Regions from separate parts of the Homo sapiens genome. Here all the other regions are linked to region 1. The links come from fine-mapping of genetic effects on gene expression. A gene starts in region 1. Each other region holds a variant in brackets. All regions are shown on one strand. Distances are from middle to middle. Region 1 holds the start of PSTPIP1 (proline-serine-threonine phosphatase interacting protein 1). Region 2 overlaps PSTPIP1 (proline-serine-threonine phosphatase interacting protein 1). Region 3 overlaps TSPAN3 (tetraspanin 3). Region 4 has its middle 9.8 kb from the start of TSPAN3. Region 5 overlaps TSPAN3 (tetraspanin 3). Region 6 overlaps PSTPIP1 (proline-serine-threonine phosphatase interacting protein 1).

What was found. PIP is the estimated chance that this variant, and not a neighbour inherited with it, causes the effect. A credible set is the group of variants that fine-mapping cannot tell apart.
Region 2: its variant is the best candidate, but not a certain one, in a credible set for the expression of PSTPIP1 in lymphoblastoid cells (GEUVADIS, PIP 0.55).
Region 3: its variant is the best candidate, but not a certain one, in a credible set for the expression of PSTPIP1 in whole blood (TOPMed, PIP 0.66).
Region 4: its variant is the best candidate, but not a certain one, in a credible set for the expression of PSTPIP1 in whole blood (TOPMed, PIP 0.78).
Region 5: its variant is the best candidate, but not a certain one, in a credible set for the expression of PSTPIP1 in whole blood (INTERVAL, PIP 0.50).
Region 6: its variant is the best candidate, but not a certain one, in a credible set for the expression of PSTPIP1 in whole blood (TOPMed, PIP 0.50).

The regions. Positions count from the first base shown.
Region 1 is chr15:76,993,348-76,998,400 of GRCh38, reverse strand. PSTPIP1 (proline-serine-threonine phosphatase interacting protein 1) reads right to left here and starts at 3,275. Exons shown (of 15, transcript NM_003978.5): 1 at 2,792-3,275. The coding sequence starts at 2,827. RefSeq lists a silencer at 3,091-3,280 and an enhancer at 3,521-3,570.
Region 2 is chr15:77,016,935-77,022,116 of GRCh38, reverse strand. It overlaps PSTPIP1 (proline-serine-threonine phosphatase interacting protein 1), which reads right to left. Exons shown (of 15, transcript NM_003978.5): 2 at 3,869-3,969; 3 at 3,586-3,660. Among named protein-coding and RNA genes, the nearest start is that of PSTPIP1, 24 kb to the right of the region's middle. RefSeq lists enhancers at 2,127-2,256, 2,446-3,018. The variant C/T (reference allele first, on the strand shown) is at 2,417.
Region 3 is chr15:77,037,969-77,042,948 of GRCh38, reverse strand. It overlaps TSPAN3 (tetraspanin 3), which reads left to right. Exons shown (of 7, transcript NM_005724.6): 7 at 1-1,545. Among named protein-coding and RNA genes, the nearest start is that of TSPAN3, 31 kb to the left of the region's middle. The variant G/A (reference allele first, on the strand shown) is at 1,955.
Region 4 is chr15:77,078,552-77,083,237 of GRCh38, reverse strand. No RefSeq gene overlaps it. Among named protein-coding and RNA genes, the nearest start is that of TSPAN3, 9.8 kb to the right of the region's middle. The variant G/A (reference allele first, on the strand shown) is at 2,063.
Region 5 is chr15:77,057,164-77,062,278 of GRCh38, reverse strand. The region is part of intron 1 of TSPAN3 (tetraspanin 3); the gene reads left to right. Among named protein-coding and RNA genes, the nearest start is that of TSPAN3, 11 kb to the left of the region's middle. The variant C/G (reference allele first, on the strand shown) is at 2,650.
Region 6 is chr15:77,030,975-77,035,354 of GRCh38, reverse strand. PSTPIP1 (proline-serine-threonine phosphatase interacting protein 1) reads right to left here. Exons shown (of 15, transcript NM_003978.5): 10 at 4,077-4,175; 11 at 2,961-3,057; 12 at 2,403-2,493. Among named protein-coding and RNA genes, the nearest start is that of TSPAN3, 38 kb to the left of the region's middle. RefSeq lists enhancers at 1-225, 226-863, 1,501-2,138. The variant A/C (reference allele first, on the strand shown) is at 2,069.

The sequences.
Region 1 (5,053 bases):
CCTGAGAAACCACTTTTGCTTCCTCCCTTACTGTGAGCTAAAGCCAGAAACAGCAGGGCTGGCTCCCCTCCTCCGCCCCGTGTTCTGTATGGGTGAGGTTGCCCAATAACTGAGGGGCTGTGATATCAAACATGATCTTTCCAGTTTAGCCAAAGTAGGGTCCCTCCACTCTGTCAGCTCTGTCACCCAGGCTAGAGTACAGTGGCACAATCTCAGCTCACTGCAACCTCTGCCTCTTGGGTTCAAGCTGTTCTCCTGCCTCAGCCTCCCAAGTAGCTGGGATTACAGGAGCATGCCATCACGCCTGGCTAATTTTTGTATTTTTAGTAGAGACAGGGTTTCACCATGTTGGCCAGGCTGGTCTTGAACTCCTGACCTCAAGTGATCCATCCACCTTGGCCTCCCAGAGTGCTGGGATTACAGGCGTGAACCACTGCACCCCGCCTAAAAACCAGTCATTTCTAAACAGTGTGCTGGCAGGCTGAAGGGTTTAATGACAGTGCCTTGGGCTGGGGTGGGGGAAGGCCCAGACATGGGCCAAGCTGGCTGGGCTGTTCCTAATATAACACCTGTGGCCAGAGTAGTGTGCCTTTTCTGTTTTACAGATTTGTCTACAAATGAAGCTTCAGAATATTGTTCTAGCCACCTTGTCTGATTTTCTTACCCCTCTGGGAGATAAGAGGGGTTACCTCTTATCTTACCCCGAAGCCAAAAGATCCAGTGATATGTCAGATAGACAGAGGGATCCTGCAACAACACAAGTGCTAAAGCCAGCCTGCCAGGGGTTTAATCCCAGCAGTGTGACCTTGCGCAAGTCTCTTAATATCTCCGTGCCTCAATTTCCTCATCTGAATAAGAGAGATAACAGTAGCATGTGTTTGAAGGATTGAATGAGTGAATATGCATACATCTTGAGAACAGCGCCTGGCACATCTTTCGTGCTCAGCAAATGTTAGTTGTTATGCACTGGGATGGGCTGAGCATCAGGAAGAGGTATTAGAATCCAGAGCCCTGGGGCAGGTGATGCCTACAGTGACCTTTCGGGGCATCGGCCCAGACTCAGTGTGAGAGGTTCCCACTGGCTACTTCTCTCCCCTTCCTGCTCTGGCCTTCCCTAGGGAAACTATATGCCCGCCCCAGGCTCAGGGAGCCAGACACAGAGGAGACAAGGCACTTGGAGGCCAGGAAGCCCAGAGGTGCGACGAGCACAGAGTGTGGGCAGGATGCCGCTCAGGAAGCTCCACAGGGGCTGGCTGCTTGCTTCTGCTGCGGCTGCCATACCCTGCTCCCTTATACGCCACCCCTACCTGTGCCCAGATCCTGCCATGGAGGCTGCTCCTTGCCCAGCTCTGCCCTAGGGAAGGCAGGCCCAGGGGCTCTAGGACTGGACAGAGGTCTCAGTGATAAAATAGTCAAGGGGTCCTGGCCTGCCCTGGGCTACAGAGTGGCCTGGGTTTCCAGGCCCTACCCCTTCCCCCAACTTTGCACACCAAGGCAGGGCAGCTAGGTGGTGACTCACATCCCCCATCCCCCAGGGCTCCAGCTGCCAGCCTGGGCCCTGAGCATCCTGGTGCCTGGTCCTCCGGATGGGCTGAGGCAGCTCTGCCTCCATTGGCTTCTCTGGGCTGGGCCCACCCTGTCTTTGTAGAGATGGGGAAACTGAGGCCCAGAAAGGCACAAGGTGCCCTCCCCACGTGGGGTCCTTTGCCTACTGTACAGTCAGAGCAGAGGAAGCAGAACACTCACACGCTGGCCACAGGCCCCAAGTGGAGCCGGCCGGAAGGGAAGGAAGGCCTGGCTCCATAGCTCTCATCCTCCTGGCTGCAGCCCCAGGAAAAGGCCCGGGGAGGGCAGGGCTGTTGGCTGGGGCTCAGCCGGCTGAGCCGAGGGCCAGAGCGTCCTCTTCGGGGTTGGAGGCAGCACCCCGGGACAGCCACATTCCCCAGCTCCAACCAGAGAGGTCTCAGTTTTTCCCCAGAGCCCTGGGCACAGCCAGAGCTGAGGGGCAGAGGGGTAGTTGAAGGACAGCTGGAAAAGTGCTGAGATGACCAGGGGTCCAAGCTGGGCTGCAGGCTACGTGGCCCGGGCCAAGCCACTTTACCTCTACCACTGGCTGGGCGCCCTTATTTCATGGGGGAAATGACTTGATTTAAGCCCGTGTTGAATTTAAGAAAGTAAGCAAGCCATTGCCCACCTGGCTGCCTCCTTGAAGGACCCCTAAGGTCTGCAAGGGACAAGGGGCTGGGTGAGGGGAACAGAATTACCATTTGGAGTGAGGCAAGGTGCTGGGGGCTTTAGTGCCTTGGATCCCCTTGCTGATCCAATGCTTTAGTTGGTGTGTTGATTTCTATTTTATCACCATTATATAGATGGAGAGACTGAGGCTTGGAGACAGAAATGACTTGCCCAGCCTGTAACAGAGCCAAGACCTGAACTCAAGTTTGTCTGGTCTCTAAATCTGTGACCCCTCCTTTGCTGCCCCACACATCCTCCTCAAGCCCCCACCCATGTGTTACCCTCTTCTGAGGAGCTCCTGCTGTGGGGAGAGGTCTCCCAGAGGAGAAAACACACGGGGCAGCAGAGAGGAGGACGCTCATTCACGGAGTCCACTTGCGTTCCAGTCCAGAAGGGGTGGGGGCCTGGGCCACCTCCATGACAATTAAGACCAAGAATCAACCACTATTTTATGAGAAAGCTCCCCTCTCGGAGCCGCATCCCATCACCTGCATGGAGATTTCAGCCTAGCTCTGCCCCCTCCACTTGTTCAGTGCCCCCAACCATCCTCACTCACCCAAAAGGCATCTTTGAACTGCAGCTGGGGCATCATCCTCAGGCGTCTGCCGCGGCAAAGCTCACTCTCCTGCCACAGGCTGGCCTGATGGAGGGCCAGGCGCCAGCAGCAGCGTCCCAGTCCTGGCAGGGCTGGCCCAGGCCCCCCTTCCCGGCCGGCGCCGTCTGCAACACTCAGAAGGCAGCCACGAGCCAGAGAGGAGCTTCTGAGGGGAGGAAAAAGCTCAACCTGTTTTGTTTGGGGCTAGAATCAGCAGCAAAATGAGGAAGGAGTGGAGCTCAGTGATGGGAGGGCGGGCCCTGGTGTCCAGCCCAGCCCCTCACCGACCCTGCGGTGATGGAGGACACAGTCTGGGACCCAGGGCAGGGAGCAGGGATGCCAGCCCTGGGTGGGAGGCAGTGGCCAGTGGAAGAGGCAGGCTGGAGCTCGGGCCGGGCCAGGCAGGCAGGCAGGCAGGCAGCCCGAGGCCTGCGCAGGAAGGTTTGTGCAACCTCCCCCGGGGCAGGCACAGGGCCCTCGCCCACAGGAAGTGGAGTTGCTGTGCTCCCCTGTGCAGCCCCGCCTGCCACCTGCCATCCTGCTCCTGCCTCTGCTTGCCCCCTCCCGAGGTGCGGGCTCACTTTATTCCAGAGGCCATATGCTAAGGGAGCTTGAGGCCCACTGACAGTGTGGCCAGGAGGGGCCCAGGAACCCCAGGTGTGTCACCCGCCAGCCAGTCCAGCACCCTTCCAGGCTGGGCCCAGAGATGCCAGACTCCCCACCCCGCACTAGCAAGTCATTCTGGAGGGGCTTACCCAGGTCTAGGGCATCTGTCATTCATCAAACCCTGGCTGCTCTGGGACCCAAACCAGGTCCTGCCCTCAAGGAGCCCATAGTCTGGGAGCAGACACAGCTGTGCTCTGGGGGGCTGTGAGCACACAGAGGCAAGGTGAGCAGGCAGCAAGATGAGGGAGAACAGCCTGAGGCCCCGGCACTGCCCCCACCACCACCACCGCCACCACCGCAAGTCTCCAGATTAGACGCTGTTTGGGGCAGAGAACCCCCTTCTGAAGATGGAGGCTTCCGGCTCAGTGAATGGGAATGGATGGAGAGAGAAACAGGATTATCAAGGCACAGAGTGGGGTGTTTGGAAACCCAGTCTGAGGCCCAGTTTTTGTTTAATTTTGACCCCACCTTTCAGGGGCTGAGGGACCTTAATAGACCCCCCAACTCGCTGAGCCTCAGCTTCCTCATCTGCCACACCCAGTCTTTGGAAAGTAGACGGTGTCGAGAATATTTCTGGAATTTCCAGTTTGGTGGGCAGGTGCTGGGGGCACTGTGTGGTACCACCTTAGGAAGAGCCCTGGACTAGAGCCCCAGCCCCAGCCCTGAGACGCCACGCCCTGCCGGCTCAGCAGAAGATGCAGCAGGAAGTCCTGAGCCCAGGGCAGGCTGGCAAAATGGGGTGAGTCAGGGATTGTCCGCAAATCACCACCCTCACTGATGTCTGCCTTACAGCTGACGGGGTGATAAGATGAGAGCTGCTGCAGATGAAATAGTTGAGCTCCCAAGTGCCCATTATGCATGCCCAGGGTTTAGAGAGAGGGGGCACACCCAGGCTCTGAAATAGCCACCCAAGAGGAAACACTTTGGGGAGGATTGCAGAGCAATGGGACTGCCCCCAGAAGGCCCTCACCTCCAGAAACCTTGGATTTGAGCTAATCTTTAATCTGTAAGGCGCCCCAGTCAGGTTTTTTGTTACTTGCAGCTGAAGACAATTAATAGTGTAAAAATCCCCTTGAACTTTGTAGGCCATAGAGTGAGCCAGGCTGCACCTCACCTCCCAATGGCACCACCACCTCTGATAGCACTGGCTCAGCCTCCCTGAGCTCAGTTTCTCCATCCATCAGATGGGATGATGCCTCTAGGTCTGGAGCAGACTAGAGACCCTCTGTTAACAGAAGGCTCCTGCCTGCTTATTGGCAGAAATTTTTACAGCTGGGCTCCCTGCCCTGCCTCTCTAGGTGTCCTTCCCATCACCTCCCAGAGACTTCTGCTCCAGCCAGGCCTCTTCCCTCTCCCTGGAGGCACCTTTCCCACTCCCACCTGCTCTGTTCCCAGCCTCCCTTCTGGCAAGCCTTCCTTGATCTTCCTTACCTGGGCAAATCCTCCCACCCTCAAAGCCAACCTCAAGGCTCCCACACATGAGGCCTTCCTTTCCCAACTGTACCTGTCCAGCCAGGGCAGCCCCGGATGGAGGGCCATGCTGGTGACGGGCTGGAG
Region 2 (5,182 bases), 24 kb before region 1:
AGGAAAACCACAGCATTTTTGGTTTGTGACAACTGGGGGTGAGGCAGGGACGTGAGGATTCAAACTTGCACCCCTTGGGGGCTGTACCTGCCCACTGGTAACCACAGAGGGGCTACAGGAAGCTGGCCTTGCCTTGGTTTTCCTTTGTTTCCCAAACCCCTGCCCTGTGCAGCTTCTGGGGGCATGCAGCACCCCCAGCACCTTACCTGACGCAGGATGAGCAATAGGGGAGTGGAGGTGACAGCTTTCTGAGGGAGGTGACATTTCAGGCAGGCCTTGAGGGATGGGTGGGACTGGGCAGGGGAGCAACAGGGCAACAGCAGGAGCAAAGGCCCAGAGGCTGGAAAGGAGAGTCAGGCAAAGTCTCTGCAGGGCTGGACATGTGATGTCAGCAATGTTGGTAAGCCCCCTGCAAATACTAACACTATCTTTTTTTTTAAGATGGAGTCTCGCTCTGCAGCCCAGGCTGGAGTGCAGTGGTGCAATCTGGGCTCACTGCAACCTCCGTCTCCCAGGTTCAAGTGATTCTCCTGCTTCAGCCTCCTGAGTAGCTGGGACTGCAGGCTCGCGTCACCATGCCCAACTAATTTTTATATTGTTGATAGAGACGGGGTTTCACCATGTTGGCCAGGCTGGTCTCGAACTCCTGACCTCAGGTCAGCCTCCCAAAGTGATGGGATTATAGGCGTGAGGCACGGCGCCTGGCCCTAATGCTGTCTTTAAAATGCACTGAAAGCGCTGGTGGGGATCCCTGGAGTTTGGGGACTGGGTCTTACTTGTCCATCCTCCATTGCCACTGCCCCACGGATGTTTGCTGAGTTAACATGTGAAGGAGGTACATGTCAAAAATCACTTAAGATGTAACCTCCTGTTAATTTCAGTGGCCCGAGCCTCCAGGCCTGAGGGTGGCTCCCGGCTGGTTTGAGGTCAGGGGACTGCAGAAATGCAGTACCTTCAGGCAGCAGTTCTGCCCTCAGGGCTCACTAGGCTATTTATAGGGTCACTTAACCACCTGGCTTTTGTCCTCGTTCTGCACCCTGTTCCTAGCCTTCCCATCCCCCAGTCCCCTGCCCGTTCTGCAAGGGGCAGGGAATGAGCATCCCATAGACCTGGGGGGCAGCTGTGGGCCTCAGGGAGGCCAGGGGCTTCCCCTACTCAGGGATGGGCCCTGGAGGGTGGGCCACCAGCCCCGATGTTGAAGAGCCGGGTCACCTTTCCTGAGGGCCAACACACACACCCCCCCCCCCCACAGGAGTCTAAGATGAGGAAACAGGTCCACGGCCACTGCTCACACTTCCCCACCAAAAGCCCTTCAGGTTGGCATGGGGAGGGGTAATTGGGTCTAAGCCAAGACTCTGACAGTAAGGCAAGGCAAGGTGTCTGGGAGGGCTTCCTGGAGGAGGTGGCGCATAAATGGGCCCTAATGCAAAGGACTAGGAAGGAGAAGGAAGTCACCCTCACTGTGCTGGACTCTGGCTAAGGAATGGCAAAGCCCTTTATTTTATTTTAAATTAGTGAATCCTCCTGACCCATCCAGGGCATGGCACATAGTAGGTCCTCAATTAAATGGTGACTAAATGGATGGAGGATGGATGCTTGGCCTACACCGAAAGGAACAGCTGCATGGCCTCATCAACAGTACTTCATGCCACATGGGTCAAGAGCAACACTATGGAGCCCCACTGTGTGCAGTGAACCCCTGTGGCTTGGCACTCTCTGCTTGTCCTTGTGACTGCCCAGAACACCTCTCCAAGTGACCATCCCCTTCCATAGGTACAGACCCTGGACTCAGAGACAGGGAGGACCATCCAGGGCCACACAAAGGATAAGTCAGGGCAGACCCTGCCCCACCTGGCCTTGAATAACCATGGCGCAATCAGGGCCGCCCAGAGCCTCCACCTGGCCCCTTCCTAGTTCTACAAATGGAGCAAGATGTTGCGTACCTCCTGCTTCCTGAGGCCCACCCTGCTCCCCACCCCCATTGTATTTTCTGTGGGTAGCTTCTCTTTCCCTGCTGTAAATCCCCTGTGACTCACAATCCCCTGAGCCTGCATCACACAGACCCACTCCAGCCTGGCTCCCATTGTGCCCTGCTGGGGCCACCCTCTCCACCTCTCCTGAGTCTCTGAGTTCTCCCCATGAGGTACCCTCTCTTTCTGGGAAAGTTCTCTTCCAGCTGGCCTGGAGGCTGGGAGGCCAGGAGACCAGGAGGGGCTCCCCTGGTCATGCTGCCAGGCCCCCACAGCTGCTCCTCCCCTGGCTGAGAGCTCTGGGCACTGCTTCCTGCAGAAAACACCTCCCTGCATACGTCCATTCACTCCTCACCATGTCCTGAGCCCTCCTCTGTGCCCAGCCTGCACCCGGCCCTCAGCCCTTCCCTTGGGAGGCCCTCAGACCATGTTCTTGTTGATTTGCA[C/T]GGCAGCTCGCTGGAGTGGGAGGTGAGAAACAAACTTGGAGAGGCTAGGCGACTGGCCCACAGTCCCACAGCTCAGATTGGCCGAGCCGGGACCAGAGCTCCAAGGGCTCCTCAGAGCCCTCCGTCCTCCCAGGGCTGTGTGCAACTTTCTGGCCTCACACACGGCTCATGCCACATCTAAGCCTTCCTGTGATCTCTGGCTCCTGGTTGGAAGCAGGAGCCGCCAGGGTGCCTGGTGTCTTTGGGGGACCTTCAGAGTATGGCACATTCAGTTCCTCTCTCGGGGGAGAAGGCAGGAAGGGAAGGGGTTCCACAGCAGCTGCAGGGTCAGGCTCAGGGCCCCTCGGCAGGAGGACTCTGCAGAGCCCTTTCAAGAAGTTGGAGGCCGGTGGTCTGTCTGCCCCTTGGCCTGGCTCTGTCCTCACCCAGGGGGACAGTCTGGGCCTTCCCAGAGCAGCCCCTCCACTCCACTGTTAGGGTGGCTGTGTCCTGAACTCACCTTCATCTCCTCACCTGGCCTCCCACCCCAGCAGTCTGCGTGCAGAGACCTGTGGGGCTGGAGACTCCCGCTTCATCAGAGCCACTTCCCTGACGGCCTGCCCTCTAACCAGGCCTCAGCTAAGCCCATGGGCCCACTTCTTCCTTTGAGGAGGGCTGCGTTACTTTCCCATCACTGATGAGGAAACGGAGCCACAGAGTGTGTCAGCAGCCAGCCCATGGTCAGACAGCTGGGGGGTGAGGAGCTGACACCGGAACCCAGGTGTGTCCCCTCCTGGACCCCTGTCTCTGGCTACATCTCCATCCTTGAAGCCCATGCTGAGCCAGTGCTGCAGGGGACTTGAGCCACCAGTGGAGACGCCTGTCACCTGCCCCTCAGGACTTCAGTGGAGGCCACCCAGGCTGGTGCAGACTGCGCTGCAAATGACTGAGGATGGATGGCCTCCTGTCTCCCCTGCCCAGACCCTTTCCAGAACTCAGACCCTCGGGCTTCCTCCCTCACAGAACCTGGCCTCACCCTGAATGCCCAATAACCAGGCACCAAGGAGCAATCCAGACCTACCCTGGTTCTGCCCAGCCTCCCCCATGCCAGGAAGACCTAAACCTCATCTAAAGGCCCAGAAACTGCCAGCAGAGGAGAGGAGTGAGCCCCAGGGCCCGGGAGATCTTACTTGATCTCCGTCTGGCCACCTGCCTTCCGTGCGATCTGCACCAGCTCCTTCCCGTACCGCTCCTCCGCCTGGGCCCTGCAAAAAAAAGGGCATTTGAAAGATCATCAGTGACTTGCCACCTCTGGGGGAGGCCCAGGTTTGAGGGAACACAGAAGAGTTTTTTAAAGCAGGGCGTGTTCTGACAGAGTTTGGCTGGGATGGGGGCCTCGTCCACTGTCCCAGGAGCCGAGCGGAAGCCACCTGCTTCCTGCCTGCGCTCCCCATGGCCTGCCCAGCAGCTCACCTCTGCCTCAGTAGCTCCTCCATGTCTTTGCACATCTTCCTGCCATCCAGAAGCCGCTGCAGCAGCACCTCGTAGCCCGTGTGGGCTGTGAAGTCCCTGCACTGTGACACAGGACAGAAGGACACATGAGGGCCACGACCAGGCGACACTGAGCACAGCCCTGTGGGGACCCTCCCACCATCTCTGGGAACAGCCTCCCTCCTGCCTCCATCTCCCCTGCTCAGGGCAAGCTCTTGGGACTCCAGACCTGGCTTTACACAGGCACACAGGAGGTCCCCTCACATCTGCAGAGGTGACAGGTACATAAGTGAGCCCCACCCAGCTGACAGGGCCGGGGGTGCCGGGCCTGGCATCTGGAGAGCTCACAGGACAGGACACACATCAGCATGAGATAGCAGATGGGAAGAGCCACCCTTAAGTCCCCCTGATGACAGCCAGGCCTGAAATTCACTCACTCACAGTGCCACCCTTCCAATATCCCTATCTCAGCTAAGTGGGGAAACCGAGGTGTAGGAGGGTGACATGTGATCGTATCCAGAGCGGCCCAGCTGGAAAGTGGCTGGCCTGGCCTTGAACCCCAGGCTGTCTGGCTGGGGTCCCTGCCCTTCACCTCAGCACTGTGCAGTCTCCATGACCATCACAGCAATTGCGGTTTCTTGGGCACCAGCCATGTGCCAGATGCTGCGCTGGGCTCTCTGTGGGCTCAGGAAACCCCCCCTCACGGAGATCCAGGGAGGTGGGCATGGAGGGTGACTTCAGTCCAGGTCAGAGCATGCGCAAGCACACCCTACATTCACCTCTGGACTGGGGTGGGGTGGGGAGCCTCAGAGAACTCTCCAGGGACAGCTACCCTCTGCTGCCTGGCACTTGCCCTGCTTGCCCTGGCTGTTGTTCCTGGCCAACCCAATTCTCCTTTCTCACTGTGCAGTGGATTCCAGGTGTGTGTCTGAGCTGCTGGTGTGGGAAGCTGGGTGTGAGAAGTTGGGGGAGGGAGGTAGTCTTTAAGGACTATGAAGGAACAGAGGTCTCCCAGGACATTCCCAGGCTTGGGGAGTGGGTCCCGGGGCCAGGATCCCCGCCACAACCCCCTGAGCTCTCCCAGGCACTGCACGCAGGCTTACTCCAGGGGAGCTTGAGAGGTGCTGGGGAGACAGGATTTTTGTCACCAACTGCACCAAGGCAGGCCTGACATTCCGCACCTAGTCTGTCTTCCTTTCTATCCCTGAGGACCCCTAAAGCCTCAGAGACTGGAGGAAGAAGTCCCAGCTCCCCTGACCACACACATTACAGTCTCCAAGGTCACGCACACTCCAG
Region 3 (4,980 bases), 45 kb before region 1:
CAAGGAAGGGCAAGGTCAGGGAAATTTGGAGTTAAGAGGCAATAAATGAGTACCTGGCACACCTAGTCGAGGTGTGTCCACTTTCTCCATAGCATGGTTACTGTTTTTTTCTTTTCAACTAATAAGAAATCTCTGGAGACACACTGTCTCCATGTACATACCCTGTTCCTCATGAGACTCTTCCCCATTCCCCGACCAGGTTCAGCAAATGTTGCTGATTCTGGCCTGATTCAATCTTTATGATGACTGCCAAGCGACGTTTCTGCAGCCCAGCACTCCTTCCTCATTTGCCAGTCATCCCTCCCTTCTCCTTCATTTATTTTCATATATCCACTATGGATTCCCATTTTTTCAAAAGTCGACTTCATCATTGACCTTTGGGGATGGGGGAAGAGTTCCTCAGATAGTTCCCGACTTGGCCAGCGAGAGCCCCTTCGAGTGCCTCCTATATCCCAGCATTTTTGGAAGCACTCCCCTAATTTCTGATCTAACAAGATGTTCCAGGCCCCTGGGCACCAGCCATGGATCAGTGTTTGTCCCAGGAGCCCTGGTCCCTGGCACTAGGTGTGCTTATTGCAGCTGGGGTGTCTTTGCTTCTTGTCCTATAGATGATTGACAGAGCTTGTCTTACTGCCTTTTTTAAGTGTATTTTTTTAAACAAAAGTAATTGGTGCTTTAAAAAATGTGAACAATACAGACATCTGTAAAGAAGTACCCACAGGGAAGCAAGTTCAGCAGTTCAGCAATGGCATGTGTCTTTGCAGACTACATACACAGAAACAGACTTGGTATTGGGTTTTGGTTTTTGCTTTTTGCTAATAGGAATTTTATCCTACAAGATCCTCTTTCTGTCTTCACAACATAGTCTGATGCTCCTTCCATGTCTAACTGTAGGATTTGTCATTCCATTGTGTTAGCTGTGTGGGTACATTAGTACCATGATTAACCAAGGTGTATAAAGGGCAGGCCTGCAGGCTGCCTCCAGTGCCTCCACTACTCGCCACAGTGATCATCTCTATACACACACTGCAGTCATTTACAATTTTTAAAATGAAAACAATTTTTATTGAGATGCAATTCACATGGCATAAAATTAACGATTTTAAAGTAAAGAAGTTGCCTTGAGTACATTCACCATGCTATAGAACCACTGCCTGTATCTAGTTTCAAAGCACTTTCATCACCCTGTGTCATGTATTTTTACATGAACTCCAAGGGTGGATTCTTGTTAGTTGGATTTACTCTGGATGGAAAAGTCATGTTTGGCTGGGTGCAGTGGCTCATGCCTGTAATCATAGCACTTTGGGAGGTCGAGACAGGTGGGTCACTTGAGATCAGGAGTTCAAAACCAGCCTGGCCAACATGGTGAAACCCATCTCTATTAAAAATACAAAAAATTAGCAGGGCCTGGTGGCATGCACCTGTAATCCCAGCTACTTGGGAGGCTGAGGCAGGAGAATCGCTTGAACCGGGAGGCAGAGGTTGCAGTGAGCCGAGATTATGCCACTGCACTCCAGCCTGGGTGACAGAGCAAGACTCTGTCTCAAAAAAAAAAAAAAAAAAAGTCACGTTTAAACATTTTCATGGATACATCTGGTTGCTCTCCAGAAAGCTTATATCAATTTCTATTCCCACCAGCAGTGAATGAAATGTGCATTTCTTTACACCCTTGTTGACACTTTTGGTGTGATCAGCCTTCATCTTTTCTTCCATTCTGAGAGATGAAAATATGTGTTTATTTGACTGTTAGCTAGGGCCAGGATGCTTTTAAAGGTGTTTCAGCCATTTGTATCTTCTGAATTTTGCTTCTGTCCTCTGCCCGGTTTGATTGGTTATTGGGTTTTTTTCTTTCGGATCTTAACAGAGTTTACTTAGGAAACTTTTCTGTGAAGCTTAATGTCTGTAGCTATTGTGAATGCAATGGTTTTCCTAACTTATTTCCGAGTTGGTGGTT[G/A]TTGGTGTGTAACAGCACCTGCTTTTTGGGTGCATCCTTGCAGTTCTTGAAAATAACTTGTGTGTTGCACGTGGCTTTCTATTGCAGTGCCTGTGAGATCTGTGAGGTCTCCTGAGGGTGTAACACAGTGACGTGGCAGAAACCTCGTATCTACTGAATGGTGCTGCTGCATTGCTATTTGTGGGGAAGTTGAGTCATACATAAATCCTGCTCCCCTGAGTTTATCCAATGAAGAAAGTAAGACAGATGTAGAAATTATAGGGTAGAAAAGAGACTTGCTGATCTTTTTTTTTTTTTCCCCGAGACAGAGTCTTGCCCTGTCATCCAGGCTGGAGTTCAGTGGCACGATCTTAGCTTACTGCAACCTCCGCCTCCTGGGTTCAAGCAGTTCTGCCTCAGCCTCCCACATAGCTGGGATTACAGGCGCGCACCACCACGCCTGGCTAATTTTTGTATTTTTAGTAGAGACGGGGTTTTACCCTGTTGGTCAGGCTAGTCTCGAACTCCTGACCTCGTGATCCGCCCGCCTCCGCCTCCCAAAGTGCTGGGACTACAGGCGTGAGCCACCGTGCCCGGCCTACTTGCTGATCTTTGTTATCCCACCATCTGGCAGGTAGTGGGCACTATCACCTGAGATAAGTCACTATGGTGCCATAACTGTTTTTCAAACTTTTAAAAATGTTTAGCTGAAGATCCTGTTAGCCAGGGGTTTCTCAGCTCCGGCTGCGTATCAGAATCACCAGGAGAATGTTTCAAATATTTATGCGCAAGCTCAGTTTGCAGGGATTTGGTTTCAGTTTGTCTGAGGTGGGACCCAACCATCAGCATTTGAAAATCTGCTCAGGTGACTCCGTTGAGCAGCTGGGTTGAGAACCACTGCACGTGCAATATGTAAACTCTCCAAGTAGATCTCGAAGTGGAGTGGGTGCCCCCTTTCTCCTCCCACTGGCCCCTAAGAGGGCTCTACTGAGCACAGTTTGATAATCCCGTGAGGGTGCTGAGGGCAGCGAGCCCAGTTGCTGGTGCGACCTTGTCCTGGGCTTGTGTTGGCTCAAAAGCCGGGATGGAGAAATAGGCAGACACCCAGGTAGTCAGACCAAGGCAAGCAGGTGACCCTTATGCTGAGGTTTCTTGGCCTAGGAAAGGCTGTGAGAGTGGTTGGAATTAGGTGTTGGACACCAGTGGCGCGTGCTTCCAGTTTGGCCAAACGTGAGTTGCTGCTTTTTGTCATCATTGCGAAGGATTCACTGACATAACCACAGCTGTCCCAGAGGGTGTGCTGAGCGAGGGGGATTATGCCAAGCGCAAAGCTGCTGTTGAGTGTAGCCAAGATTCAGAGGTTGTGGGTCTTTTCCTTAAAAGTGGTATCCCTTGCTGGTAAGTAATACCTAATCATTGTTTAATTTGAACCTTAGGAGATTTTGCATGGGGGCATATTGCACCCATCTTACTGATGCTGAAACAGGCCCAGAGAAATTGTGACTTGCCTAAGACCACCCAAGAAAGCGTGAGCCTGGATTCAGGCCCTGATGTTGTGATTCAGAGACCATGCTTGTCCTCCTGCTCCTTGCTGTCTTTGAGTGGCCCTCGGTCAGGAAGAGGCTGCAGTTATTTATACACCCAATTACACGCTAACTCCCTCTTTATCTGGCACCGTCTCTGCTGGGAAGGCCATCCATCCATGCAGTTGGTTCCCAGCAGCTGAGGTGGTGCCCAGTGATGGGAGAACGGAGAAAGCTGCAGAAGCAGTGAATCTGACTTGGATTCATTTGTGGGCATTCTCCCCCTGGCATAAATTGTGACCCAAGAGTTGCTTTCAGTTCTATTCTCTGGCCACCCGAATGACTGGAGAACAGACTCTGTTATCTAGCACTTGTTACCCATCACGCTCTGGGGCCCACAGACACTGCGGCACCTGTCAGAGATGATGATAAATATCTAGGCCAAAGGTTTTTTAAAAAATCTTTGCAGTGGAATGGAATGTTCAATCAAGATGACAAGGCATCTTCAAGGAATAAGTAAAGTATTGATACCTTTTTACTCTTTCCTTTCCCTTCCCTGCCCACACATGGCCCCACCCAGTGGTAAGCCTACGCGGCTGTCCCGCCTCTCCCAGCCCTCGCCCAGGCTTTGTTCCCGCACCACTCCCCTCCAGCTCCTCCACCTGGGGAGGAGCCCATCTTCAAGTCTGGGCTCCGAAGTCACTCCTCACCTCCTCACTTTCCCTCTCTTCCCACCCATCTCCCATCCCGTAAGTTACCAAGTCCTGTCCATCTGCTCCCTGTGTTCTTCCAGAGTTGCTCTCCAGCCCAGTCACCACTTCCCAGACAAGCCACCCTCCCCTCTGCTGGATGGCCTGCACCAGCCCCTGGAACCACTCCCCCCACTTACTGCCTCACATCTCAGGGCCTAGAGGGTGGCTGTCTGTCCTCCTGGGCTGAGTGAGCTCTTTGAGGCCCCTTTTAGCACCACACCCCCATCATCAGGTACAGTGTGGGCCACACATGAGTCATTAGAATGTCCATGTCTCATGCTTGCTTAACTGAACCCAATTTTTTGCTCAAGTAAAGATCAGGGTATAAAGATGGGCATTCTGTCTCTCTCCCCCTCCCTCCTTTCTCTCTCTCTCCCCCTCCCTCCTTTCTCTCTCTCTCCCCCTCCCTCCTTTCTCCCCCTCCTTTCTCTCTCTCTCTCTCCCCCCCTCCCTCCTTTCTCTCTCTCCCCCCTCCCTCCTTTCTCTCTCCCCCCTCCCCATGGGGAACAGCAGTGCCCTGCAGCAGCTCATCAGTGTGGTCCCAGCAGAGGAGGACCACTGTGTCCCCCATCCCGCCCCTTACAGTCCTGGGCCTGCCTGGCTCCGAAGCCGGGTGGGGATCCCAGGAGGGTGTGAGGTGGGCCGGCTTGGCCACTCCCAGGACTGAGGAGTGGTCAATGGCCAGGGGCCCTCTCCTCCACACCCACTCCCAATGCCTTTGGCATGGATGAAGCCTATCATGGTTGGAGCAGGGCTTGGCCAGCAGTGAAAG
Region 4 (4,686 bases), 85 kb before region 1:
CCCAAAGTGGTGGGATTATAGATGTGAGCCACCATGCCCGGCCCCAATATATTTTCTTACTCTACCCTCCTTGCCCAAAGGGAGCATTTATTTGTGTTCCTTGAAAAAGAAGCATCCATTGTGCCTTGCCTTTTTTCACTTAGCAATTCTAGAGACCTTTCCATATCATGAAATGATGTATTTTTGTTTTGTAGAGCTAGGGTACGGTCTTGAACTTCTGCCCTCAAGCAATCCTTTCACCTGGGCCTCCCAAAGTGCTGGGAATTAGAGGTGTGAGCCACCATGCCTGGCTCTGAAATGATGCATTTTAAATTCCACTGAAATTATTATGTCCTGGGCTCCTGACAATAGAGATACCATAGGCTGAAGAGAAATTTTGTTGGGAATTTCAGTATTTCCAAAATTCCAAAAGTCTTCTTTTCCTCTCCATGGCAATGCTTGGAGGTGTGCAGTCTAGTCTACTGTAAGTCACATGTGGGAGGGAGGGAGTGGATGCTCTCCAGGAGCTGGGAGATGACAGAGAGACATACAGGAGTGAGAGGAGTGTGGGCCTGTGCTCAGACAAGGGTGAAGAGCAGCTGCCAGGGGGCTTACCCCGCCTTGGGGTTGAAACTCTGGAGAAAGAGAAGATCCTACATTGTATAAACCCTACATAAGCAAAGTGGGAACCCAAAGCAGGAGACTGTCTCTCTGGGAACCCTTGAGCCAAAAGGTCAATTCACTGGAAGCCAGCTGACCCCCCAAAGGGTGAGATGAGCCCCAGAGACTTCACGTAAGACAAAAGTGCAGCAGTATCCAGAGCTGCTTCTGGTCTGTCTCCTGGTGGGAAGAACTGAGTAGAGGAAGCTTCAACTGGTGTCTGCAGGAGTCAGGAGATGCCTGGCCTAGGGCTTGGTCATGGCAGGGATAAAAGCCCATCACTGTTATCTTCTACAAGGCCTGCTGGCCTAGGCAACTCCTCAGCTTCCCCCAACTCTTCCTGTGAAGTTCAGAAATGAGTTTCTCAACCAGCTCAAGTTGCTCAGCTTATTTTTCTCTCACCCAGCAATTGCTCCCCGACCCTGAGTTGGCAGCTGTGAAAACATAAACATTGTCAAAACCTCCCTTGCACCTCCCCCGTCTCTCCCTGTCCCCAGTACTGCTGGGCCCACCTCTGTTCCCTGCTCCCAAGGGTCCTCCCTCACCCATGGCCTCCATCCGGGCAGTACCCAGGAATGTGGGCCCAGGACAGGCAGCTTCCCTTTCCCTCGGCCCATCCGGGGCCATGGGGGAGGCACAGTTCAGCTCTCTCCCTGGGCTCTGGTGGACACACAGCATCTCAAGTAGCCCTATCTGGATTCCTAGACCCTGGTACAATCACTGGCAATTGGTGATGTGGGGAAGGGATCTCTACCCCCTGCCTCTGTCTCCAACCCAAACTTCAGGCTTCCCTGGCCCCTGGGCAGTGCCCTCACTCCCCTGCCTCTACTTGATCCCCAGTGCTCGGTGGATTTGTGCCCCACCTTGGCCATTAGGGCTCCCTGCGCCTCCCTCTTGGAATAACACTTCCTATCTACTCTTTTCTCCTTCTTCCACATTTCTTTTTCTTTTTCGAGATGGAGTCTTGCTCTGTTGCCCAGGCTGGAGTACAGTGGCACAATCTCAGCTCACTGGAACCTCCGTGTCCCAGGTTCTCCTGCCTCAAGCGATTCTCCTGCCTCAGCCTCCCAAGTAGCCAGGATTACAGGCACCCATCACCACGCCCAGAGATTTTTTTTTTTTTTTTTTGTATTTTTAGTAGAGACAGGGTTTCACCATGTTGGCCAGGCTGGTCTCGAACTCCTGACCTCAAGTGATCAGCCCACCTTGGCCTCAAGGTGTTGGGATTACAGGCATGAGCCAACATGCTTGGCTGGTCACCTCCTCTTTTAAGGGATCCCAAAGTGCCTTTCTTTTCTCTCCCTTCTCCCCTCAGGTTACAGGGCCATTCATTAAAGTCAGGTGGTCTTTCTACAGAAGAATTTTTGCTTTAGTAGGCAGTTCAACTGAGATGCTGTTGAAAGTGTCTATATCCCTGCAAGGA[G/A]GGATTTTTTTTTTTTTGACCGAGTCTCACTCTGTAGCCCAGGCTGGAATGCAGAAAAAGTATTTGATAGAATTCAACACTCATTCATGGTTTAAAAATAAAAAACTTCTTAGCAAACAAGTAATTCTTAAAAATAATCTTACAAAGGCATTGTAAAAGCCCTATAGCAAACATCACATTGAGTGGTGAAATATTGAATGTTTTCTTCTGATATTAGAAATAAATCAAGAAGACATGCTATCGCTACTTCCATTCAACATTGTGCTTGGATTTTACCAGTGCAATAGGGCAGGAAAAAAAATAAAAATCTTACGTCTTATGTATTGGAAAAAAAGAAATAAAGTTGCTATTATGCATAGGCAACATGATTATGTACATAGGATTTTTTTTTTAATCTACAGATAAAGCCTGGCACAGTGGCATGTGCTTGTAGTCCCAATGCTTGGGAGGCTGAGGCAGGAGGATTGCTTGAGCCCAGGAGCTCAAGGTTGCAGTGCACTACAATCATGCCTGTGAATAGTGTCCTCCAGCCTGGGCAACATAGTGAGACTCCATCTCTAAAAAAAAATTTTTTTAAATCTACATACAAACCCTTAAAATCAATAAAATTTAGCAAGGTTGCTGGATACCCTCTCTATATACAAAAAACAGTAGATTCTTTTTTTTTAATCTTTTTTTTTTTTTTTTTTTTTTTGAGACGGAGTCTTGCTCTGTCACCCAGGCTGGAGTGCAATGGCACAATCTCAGCTCACTGCAACCTCCTCCTCCTGGATTCAAGAGATTCTCCTGCCTCAGCCTCCTGAGTAGTTGGGATTACAGGCGCCCACCACCACACCCAGCTAATTTTTGTATTTTCAGTAGAGACAGGGTTTCACCATGTTGGTCAGGCTCATCTTGAACTCCTGACCTCAGGTGATCCACCCACCTCGGCCTCCCAAAATGCTGGGATTACAGGTGTGAGCCACCGTGCCCAGCCAAAAACAGTAGTATTTCTACTAATAGCTACAAACAATTAGAAAGTGAAATTCTAAAAATGAGACCATTTACAATAACATCAAAGCAAGACATATCTAGAAATAAATCTAATAAAAGATGTATAAAACTACATACTACATCACTGACAGAAATTAAAGAAGACCTAAATAAAGGGTGAGAGGGATATATCACATTCATGGATTGGAGGACTCAAGAATATTCATAGCAGCGCTACTCTAAATAGCCTGAAAACTGCAAACAATTGGCTGGGCATGGTGGCTCACGCCTGTAATCCCAGCACTTTGGGAGACCGAGGCGGAGTGGATCACCTGAGGTCGGGAGTTCGACACCAGCCTGGCCAACATGGTGAAACCCCTGTCTCTACTAAAAATACAAAATTAGCTGGGTGTGGTGGCACATGACTATAATCCCAGCTACTCAGGAGGCTGAGGCAGGAGGATCACTTGAACCCAGGAGATGGAGGTGGCGGTGAACTGAGATCGCACCATTGCACTCCAGCCTGGGCAACAAGAGCGAAACTCTGTCTCAAAAAACAAACAAACAAACATTGCAAATAATCCAAATGTCCCTCAACTATAGAATAAACAAATTCATTGTGCTATAATTATACAATTGAATATGAATATTCACAAGAAATGAATACACTTCTGCTTCATGCAACAACATACATGAATCCCGTAAATATGATGTGGAGTGAAAGATGCTAAACACAGAAGATCATGACTCTTTGTGATTCATTTATATGTAAAATTTTATTCATAAAAAGTTCAAAAGCAGATAAAACTGATCTGGTGTTAGGAATCAGGATAGTGGTGGTTCTTGCTGGGGAGTAACAACGGCAAGGGCCCAGGAGAGAAGGTTTCTGGGGTGCTGGCCACCCTCTATTTCTTCATCTGGGTGGTGGTTTCACAACTGCTCTCGCTTTGTAACAGTGAAGCCATGCATTTATGGTTTGTGTACTTTTCTGAGTGTATGTTTTAATTCAGTAAGAATTTTAATTAAAAAAAGTAGGGGCCGGGCGAGGTGGCTCATGCCTGTAATCCCAGCACTTTGGGAGGCCGAGGTCAGGAGATCGAGACCATCCTGGCTAACACGGTGAAACCCCGTCTCCACTAAAAATACAAAAAATTAGCAGGGCATGGTGGCCCACGCCTGTAGTCCCAGCTACTTGGGAGGCTGAGGCAGGAGAATCGCTTGAACCCGGGAGGCAGAGGTCGCAGTGAGCTAAGATGGTGCCACTGCACTCCAGCCTGGGTGACAGAGCAAGACTCCGTCTCAAAAAAAAAAAAAAAAAGTAGGAAGTGGCAAATTGTGACGCAAAGGACTTCTAAGGCTTCTCAAACTCAGTGACCTGGCTGCCGTCCGTGTCATGTGCTGCTGAGCAGTAGAGCTGAGTACTTTGTGTTTGTTTTATCGTGTAATCCTCTCGGATTAAATGCACTCTGTGAAATCGGTATTATTCTTTTTTTTTTTTTTTTTTTTTTTTGAGACGGAGTCTAGCTCTGTCGCCCAGGCTGGACTGCAGTGGCCTGATCTCGGCTCACTGCAAGCTCCGCCTCCCGGGTTCACGCCATTCTCCTCCCTCAGCCTCCCCAGTAGCTGGGACTACAGGCGCCCGTCACCACCAG
Region 5 (5,115 bases), 64 kb before region 1:
GTAGAATGCTAAACGATTTAAGATGATTTTAAGACACTTGTAATGGCATAAGGGTGAAGTTTGGGGAAGCTTTCAGAAATCCACTGTGTGGAATTACCAACGATTCTTCCCAGGAGAGAAAAGAGGTATATGAAAAATAATATGACAGTACAGGAAACTCTGGATTTAATGTTAAAAAGATATATGCATAAGATGGATTCCTGCCTATTTTTTCCCTCTGCTTTTAAAACCTGCTTTCTTACAAAGTCTAGAGTACAGCATTTTTTGCTCAGTCTTTTACTTCTTGACTTTTTTCCTTTCTCTCAACACTCCAGTCACTTCTACTTTACTAATTGATTCTTTGGCAAAAATCACTCCGAAGGGAGCAGTTCACACAGGCAAGCAAGAATTTGTCAGGCACTGTGCTTTTAGGTGAATAAAGTCCAGATGGTGCCTTGTCTTTACATTGTTTTGATTCTTGCCAGTTCTAGATGGGAATCATCATCAATGGCTACTACATACCACTGCAAGAAAATCACTTCTATTCTTTGCTTCAGCTTCGCCCAAAATGTCCTGTGGGATGCTTTCGCCTTTGTATTTCTAAATCTCCATGTAGGTATACTTTTGGCAACAGAGCTACTTTATCTCCCCACTTGTAGCAAATCTGTTTCATTTTTAATATTGCCACATTCCAATGGCAGGTTACACCGTGGTTGATGAAAAGGAATTTAATAGTTTTACAGATTTTAACTTTTTTTTTTTTAATTTTTTGAGACTGAGTTTTGCTCTTGTTGCCCAGGCTGGAGTGCAGTGGCGCAATCTCGGCTCACTGCAACCTCTGCCTTCCAGGTTCAAGCGATTCTCCTGCCTCAGCGTTTCTGAGTAGCTGGGATTACAGGCATGTGCCACCACGCCCGGCTAATTTTGTATTTTTAGTAGAGACGGGGTTTCTGCATGTTGGTCAGGCCGGTCTCGAATTCATGACCTCAGATGATCTGCCGGCCTTGGCCTCCCAAAGTGCTGGGATTACTGGTGTGAGCTACTGCGCCTGGCCCAGATTTTAACATTTTATCTACTTGTCTCTTTCATAGAATATTTGAAAATTACCCCCCCAAAAACTAGTTTCTAAGCTATGGAAAAAGCAATCTCATATAAGAATGAAATCTCTTTAAGATATTTCACATTTGTGCATATGTAGAGGAAGGGTAAAAGCATAAAATGAAGTATCATACTTTTGGAACTCATATACTTGCAAAATTTTATAACAAGATGGCTTTATTTTTTAGACAGCTTAGTGGAAAAGCACTGGCTCTCCTAAAGTTTTAAAATGTTGTGACTTAATTTAGAGTATAGGCTTATTAAAAGATAAAGAATAATGGTTTTTTAAAAATTATTCTTTCTGTAATTTCAGACCTCAGCCTTTTGCCTAAATTTCCTTTCACTTCTTTGTAAAAAGGATGAATATTTTTAGTACACTGTCCTGGCACAAATCCTCCTTACAGGCTCAGATTTTCTCAGTGGTGACTAAAGCAGTTCAGCTGCTTCCAAGTTCTACATTTCATCTCCTTTTCTGTTGCACCTCCCTCCTCCCCAGCCCCCTCCTTTGCAGCTGCTTTATTGGCAAAGCTCAGATCCTTTGATAGATCTCAATCCCATCATGGCCCTTCAAAAGAAGAATTTAAGCTCACCTTTTATATAGCTTTTCTGATAGCCACAATTTCTGCATTAAAAATCTGAGGGATGACAAAGTCCCTATGCATACTAGTTAGGAATTTCTTAGAACCTCTCTTCCATTTACTATACTGTTTCCCATGTTCTTTTGGGTGTTTTTCATATTGATGGTTGGATATCATTACAACAATTACTTTTGGCTGTTTTTAGGTCTTCAGCTGCTACTGGGATACCTCTTCTATATTTTCAAAGTAACCAGTGTCATTTCATAATTGTTTATTATACAGCTTAAGATATAAGCACCATATACAGATTTCAGTAAAAGCAAAATTTGAAGCTGTTTTCAATTTAGGAAACACATCGTCTATTTATAAGCAATTTGATGTGTATAGTTTCATATCAGCAATCCGTGCAGTTTTCTCTTTGGTGTGTGCAACTAGTAAGTTCCTTTAACTATATGTTGCCAAATAGAGCTTTGTTATGTTCTCATCTTGTTGTGTGACTTGGATGTTGACTGCAGCCTGGGAAAAAAAACTGTTGTAGAGTCTATCAGAAAAGAAGAGGCAGCTTTACAAATGGCATCTCCCCACAGCCCTCCATTGCATTTGTTGTGCATCTGGTTGTCTCTGTTGCTGGTTTTTCTGCTTTCTTGTAGTCTCAGTTTCAGATGAGTGCCTCTTTTAGGGGGGAGAGGCAGTGGCAGCAGAGGAAACATTTCCCTTGGCCCACCTCCAAGCAGCACTAAGTGTGAGTCTCATAGGAACCTCTTTAGATTGAAAACTCATCAATTTATATCTAAAATGCAAGTAGTTCTTCAGTGAACTGTGCTTCAGGTTGATTGTTAAGTACATATGGCCTCCAGTTTTCTCTTATTTTCATTCGAATTTACATAGGCTAAAGCTAGTGAAGTTTCAGTAGGTGTACCGAAAGCTCAGAAATGGAATTCATTTTAACTCAAGCCTTTTAAGAAATAAATACTGCCTTTTAGAGTAAAAAAAA[C/G]CTACAACATTAAAGGATAGAGAAACGTCTAATAAAAACAAATGACAAAATTTGATTAATTTGCACTTCAGATTGCTTCTAATTTAGCGTGAGGACTGATACTATTTACTTTAGCAAAATGTGTGTGTGTACATGTGTGTGAATATATATCACACAAGTAGTCAATAAAAAGGGGTATTTGGGAAGAGTGTTAAGTAGTTGACATACTTCTGTAATAAATGCACCCAAATTAAAATTAAGCTATGTCTGGCCAGGCGCAATGGCTCACGCCTGTAATCCCAGCACTTTGGGAGGCCGAGGCGGGCGGATCACGAGGTCAGGACATCGAGACCATCCTGGCTAACACGGTGAAACCCCGTCTCCACTAAAAATACAAAAAATTAGCCAGGTGTAGTGGCGGGCGCCTGTAATCCCAGCTACTCGGGAGGCTGAGGCAGGAGAATGGCGTGAACCTGGGAGACGGAGCCTGCAGTGAGCTGAGATTGCGCCACTGCACTCCAGCCTGGGCGACTGAGTGAGACTCCGTCTCAAAAAATAAATAAAATAAAATAAAATTAAGATAAATTAAACTATTTCTCTTCTCCACTCCCCCCCACTTTTGTGCTCACCTTCATTCTCTAGTACCATGCCCCAAAAGCAAATATGTCAGTGAACTCTGAGAACCTTTGAACAGGCAGTTTGCTGTAAGTACAGTGTTTATATTTATGACATATTTACGATATATTAACATATTCCAGATGTAATGGCCATCAGAATTCAGCAAGCTGGATTCAGTTGCCAAATAATTGAATAGTGAACTAAAAGCTATAAGCATTGAACTGAAGAGAAACCAGATACAAACCAAATACAAATACAAACCAACGCAAATACAAACCAAAGCTTATGATAGAGTTGGGAGGGTGATTTCAAGGGAAAGGGGTGAGATGAGGTGTACTCAATAAACTTTAACTGATACCTGCTGTCTGCCAAGTACTGTTCTAGATGATACAAGGGTGAAGGACAGATGGGTACAATTCGTGCTCTCAAGGTGTGTTGAGACAGGTATAGCTATAATTGCAACCGTTTCGATAAATATTCTGTTAGAACCATGCACTGGGAGATGTTTGTGTCCACCAAGGGCAGCTAATCCAGCCTGAAATGGTCAAGAATGGCTTCCAAAAGGAAGAGGTAACATTTAAGCTTCATCTTAATGAGCGACAAGGAGTTCCCAGGCATTTGAAGAGAGCATTCTAGAGAGAACAGCGGAGGCAAAGAAGTGAGAGAATATGTGGTCCATTTGGGTATAACAGTTCTATATTGTTCATAGTTCACAAGGGGTAATGAGATCTGGGGCTGAAAAGGAGGAATAGCTTGGTTCATCGGGGACTCACTTGCCTCATCCTGATTTTAAGTAAGGCTATGGCTTGATCTGGTTTGTATTTTTAATAAATATAACCCTGGTAGTATAAAGAATGTATTAAGATGCAGGGAGAGTCAATAAGTAAGATTTAGGGGGATAAGATAAGGCCCAAATTAAGACAGAAGCACTGCAGTGGGGTTGAAGAGGAGTTGAGGTATTCGAATAATGTTTTGGAAGTAAAGTTGAAGTTTTGTGATTTATGGGTTATAGAGGTGGGGCAAGGAAAGTTAATCCTCAGATGTTTGACCAGAAAAATTAGATGTCTGGTACCTTTTGCTATGATAGGAATGTAAGGGAAGATTAGATGGGCTGGGCAGGAAGGCAGAAAGGGTTTGAGACAGGTTGAGGATGACATGTCTCTGGAACTTGCAGATGGAAATGTGTAGTTCTGAGATGATAGCTCAGGTAGTGAGCTACAATGACTAATGAAGCCATAGCTGCTGTAGCCCACGGAGAGCCCAGAGAATGACTAAAGAATAAGGCCGAAGACAGAATCCTGGAGATCACTAACATCTCAGAGTCCGTGAAGAGAATGAAAAAGTGAGCACCTGGGGAAGTAGGAAGAAAACCAGCAGTGGGGCCTCTTGGAAGCCAGAGGAAGAGAGTTTTAAAACAATGTTTTTAAAAATTGCCTTCATTATTCTAGTTGTCTTCTCACTTTAAAAAGTTCATGTTACATTTTAAAAAATCAAATTACTTTCCCAAATTTACATAAATGGAGTCTTTTTCTTCCTCATCTGACAGTGATCCTAATGGCCTAGTGTAAAAAAATATACTGATGATCCCCAAGCTTACTGAATTTCATAAACTTAAATGATCTGGGTTTTCAGGTTCAGAGAAGTTAATGATATTTCCAGTATCACTGTGGCAGCTGTTTCTAGTTTGAAGATGATTTATATGTTAAATTTTAAAGGATGATGAAATACTTCTTGTGAAAGTTTCAAAGTACTCTACAAATGATAACTCATTGTTATCCAAGTGATAACCAAATGTTTTAACACTTACTCTGACACTGCATTTGCTTGTTTGTATATGAGCCAGTGGCATTGGGCTGTCAGCACAGAGCT
Region 6 (4,380 bases), 37 kb before region 1:
GGTGCCCCTCAGGCAGGAGGGCTCCCCAGAAAGTAGTCCTGGTGGCTCCTCCTTCCCCAGCTACGCCCTCCACTGGCGCCCTCTGCAGGCCATCTCAGCACCTGCTCCCTGCAGGGCCCTTGGGAGGATCCTAGAACCCCCGAAGCTGTAGCTTCATTGGAAGACTCCCATGGCCCTTTGGGGGTTCTAGGACCTCCGCACTGAGGCCTCGTGGGAAGATGCCCAGTCCTCACCCTCCAGGCCCCTGCTCTAGCTTGCCCTAGCAGCTTCCCCCATGGGTAGGGGTGGGGGGTGCACTGCCACACAAAGCCTGGCTCACGTGCCCTGCTGAGGCCTCCACTGCCTGGGCCGAGCCAGCCCTCCTCCCTGTGGGCCCACGGTGATCAGGCCAGCTCAGCCACCCTGTTCACAGGAGTTCCGGGACAGCGCTGGGCTACTTTACCCCTGCCCCTGCACCAGGCTTAGGCCTGGACTGAGCTGGGGTCATGAAGGTTTACTGAATAAAGGAAAATAAAACAGAAGAGGCAGATGCGGCAGATGCTGGGGGCACCCCCTGAAGTGGGCAGTAGTGAGGGCTCAACAAGTAGAGGCTGACACTGCCTCCAAGGCAAGAGGGCTTCTTAGTGGGGTGGGGCTGAGTCTTCAAAGATGAGTGAAGCTTTACTAGGAGAGAAGGGGGAGCGAGGCACTGCAGGTGACCAGGAGAGGGAGGGCTCAGGTGCAGGGGAGGAGGCATGGCACAGGTGGGGTTTGTGGAGTGGAGTGGACCAATTTGGGTGTGTGGGGGACAGGACTGAAATAGAGACTGGACCAGACCCTGAGGGATCTTGAATGCAGGTGAGGGGCTGAGCCATGACTCAGGGGCCTGTGGGGGGCAGCCCTGCAATTCAAGGTGGCATGTGGGGGGCCTTTCCCACATGAGGCGCCGAGGGCCAAGGCCCCAGGAGTGCACACACATGCGCAGGGTGGACATGCGTGGACCCAGCACATGGGAGGGCCTGACACCAACACAGGCGGGCAGACACACGTGCCAGCTCCCCAGGCAGCAAAGGACAGGGTGCAAGCCAGCAGGGGCTGGGGACAGGTGGAGGAAGCGGCCAGGGCAGGGGGAAAGGGGTGCAGGGCTTGCTGAGCCATTGTGCTGCGTGCCCCCACACCTCTTTTCCCCAGACTGTCTACACTTCTGACTCCCAGTCACTGACCCCCGCCTCTTCCCAGTCCTGCCTGGCTTCTAGATGCCCCATCCAGAGGCCTGACCAGCCCCCTCCAGCAGCCAGGCCTCCCTCGGCCCTGCAGGACATCTCTCTCTCTCTCTCTAATCCTCTCTGGGGCCACTCCTTTCTGCCCCTTCCTGATACTGCTTCAGGTGAGCTCTTTTGTCCAGTTGCTTAAATGACCACCTTTGCTGGGATCCAGGTCCTCACCAGGCACAGGGAAGCCTGTCTCACAAGCTTTTGTAGCATGTGAGGCTGCGGGTGTGCTGCCTCCTGGGGTCACTGCTTGCACAAGATTCTCAAAGAGGGTGTGTGTGTGCCCTCTCTAAGCACGGGTGGTTCCCACGAGCCTCTGCCTCCCAGGAGTAGGAAGTTCCAGGGGCTCCTGAGGCCCTGGAATGAGCTGGTCCTTGGGAAGGGCCGGGAACTGCATCAGCCTCTCCCCACAGTCCACTACCTCCCAGAGGCAGGGCCTTCTTGGTTGAAGGGTGGCTGAAGAGTGGTGGCATGGCGGTGGGGGCACAGGCACCATGTGAAACCCACAGACCCTTGTGGATGCTCACAGGGCACATGGCCTCCCTCAAAGGCCTGGCTACGAGGGCTCCCTAAGCTGGCTATAGTGCTCCCAATGGGCTGTCACCTTCGTCACTCAAGGCCTGAACCAGGAGAGTCCTTAGATTCTGAATCTGACCCCAACACTCAGGGCCCTGGCCTTAGAGAGTGTGAATGACTTGCCCAGGTCACACATTGAGGCCCAGCACTAGGACCTTGGCACTTGACTGCAGCCAGGCCGGGGAAGGAGCCCTGGAAAAGCCTGGAGAATTCTCCAGATGCCCCAGTCCTGCTCCAGCCAG[A/C]CAGCGTTGCCACTGCAGCCTGACAGGGCACCAGGCTCACATGAGGCCCCAGGGACAAGGAAGCCAGCATAGGGGCCTCCCCAGAGCTCGGAGCACCTCCCCTAGTGAATAATTGGGGTGTGATTATTCTAGTGTCTGGGTCCCTTGGGCTGAGGGTTCCATAGGCTGAACTGAGCCTATCTTGTCTCCACAGAGTGCCCAGCACCTAAACTGGGCACCAGATACAGACACATAGTAGGTGCTCAGTGAACGAGGAAGGGCCAGGTGCAGAGGAGGGGCTCGACCCACTTCCTGGCCCAGCCTTAGGCCCTCCCTCCGTCTGTCGGGGCCTCACCTCTTTATCATGCCGCAGGACGGCTGTATGCCAGGGCTGCTGGTCAGCGGGGTGACCTCCCGATCGTAATAGTTCTGGTAGGGCACCGGAGCTGCAGACAGCAAGCCGTGAGCCCCAGGGCGGCCCCCAACACCCCATTCTGGCCCTGCCAGACTCAGCTGGGGCCCTACATTCCCAATCTGGCCCTGGCCCATCCTGGTGCCTGAGGAGGTGCCTGTCTTGCTCCCATGAGAGACCCCACCGTAGGTACCATCAAGACCTAATATTCTGGACCCGTGATCCAGTGGAACCAAACAGGCGGGGAGTGGGGGCCGTGGGAGCTCCTCACCTCAATCCCCATCCCCACCTCTTCCTCTGAGTGCCATCATGCCCTTAGCTTTGCCTGAGAGGAGGCAGCAGGCCTGGGACCCAACTCCCCACAACCCCTGCTAGGGCTTCTCTGCCCTGAAGGGAGCTGTGAGCTACCCCAGCCCGGTCCTGGCACTTGAGGCTCAGGGCCGGGCCTTCCCAGGGGCTCAATGCACCTAGAGGCTGCGCTGTCCGCAAGCCGGACCTCACCGGGGGGCTCTGTGCCCGTGCTCTTGGCCTGGATGAAACTGTCGATGTCGGCGTCTATGCTGCAGCCTTCCAGCGTCAGCCGCACTTCCTCGTAGAGCTGGGGCAGGAAAGAGCAGAGGCCGCAGCCCGATGCCCACTCTGCCCCTCTGTGGGCCTGAACTCTGACCAGCGGCCCCCACCCACCGGCCTCCTCACAGGCCATTGTGCGCGGCTCGGGGTCTTTGATCCTGAGGGGTCACGGCCCTGGCTGACAGCTTCCTGTTTCCTGAACACCTTCTGTGTGCAAGGCCCTGTGCAAGGGACTTAACTCACACCTGTCCTCTAAGGTAGACCCCACTTTTCCCATTGGATAGATGAGGAAACTCAGAGGAGAGTGACTTGCCCAAGGTCACAGCGAGAATGCAGCACAGCCAGGCCTTGGGGCTAGGAGAGTGGGTCCAGAGCTCGCCCTTCTACCTCAAGGAGGCGAGGAGGCAGCAGGGGGCTCGAGTCACTTGGGCAAAAACAACAAGAAAATCAACCCCCACAGCCCCGGACAGGAGCGTCAGGCAGGAAACACAGCAGGCAAGGGGGCCAGGGCTGCCCGGGAGAGCCGTGTGCTGGGCTGCATCCATCCACAGAGCTCAGGGACCCTGGCTGGGGGCCCTCTCTGCTGGGGAGGACCCACCCAGCAGGTTGGGCTCAGTAAGGGGAACCAGGACACCCTGGAGATGTGGGGAGCAGAGGAAGGACTGCGCCTCGGCTCCTGCAAGCACCAGGCCTAGAGCAGAGCAGCCACGGTCCTCCAGCTTCTGCCAACCTCTGACAGCTGTGTCCACCTCCCCTCCCATCCCCGGCAGAGGGGGCAGGTGCTCTGTGGCTCTGAGGCATAAGGAGGAAGTCAGGGGAACCACAGAGTCATCATCTTCCAGGCAGAGAAGCCATGGCCCTGTGTGGTACTGAGCTCCTGTCTTGGGGTTCTGGGGGCAAAGGCTGAGCTGCTGAGGCCTGAGACCCCTGGGGCCAGGCTTGGATCACAGAGGACCAGGTGCTTGTTGACCGGCTCAGATGGACCTGGGTGCTTTGCTGCCTAGAGGCTGCCCTACCTTACCCCACACCAAGGCCCTCAGCCCCCACCTCATCATCCTTGACACACTGCATGGAGAGCTGGTTGCTGTGCACCCACAGGGCGTTGCGGAGAATGGTCAGCCGGTCAAACTCTTGCAGCTGAAAGGCCTGGGGGCAGTGGGAGGGAGGTGAGCAGTGAGGAGGCGGCTGCAGGGCCCGGCCAGGCTGGGCCCCATTCACAGCTCAGCCGGAGCTGACCAGGCCAGCCCTCTCTGCTGGAAGCCCAGTCCAAAGGAGAGAGTGCCCTGGGGTCCCCATCCCGACTCCGGGCCAGCCCTGAGGCTGCAGGGAGGGAGGTGGAGATGCCCAGGGG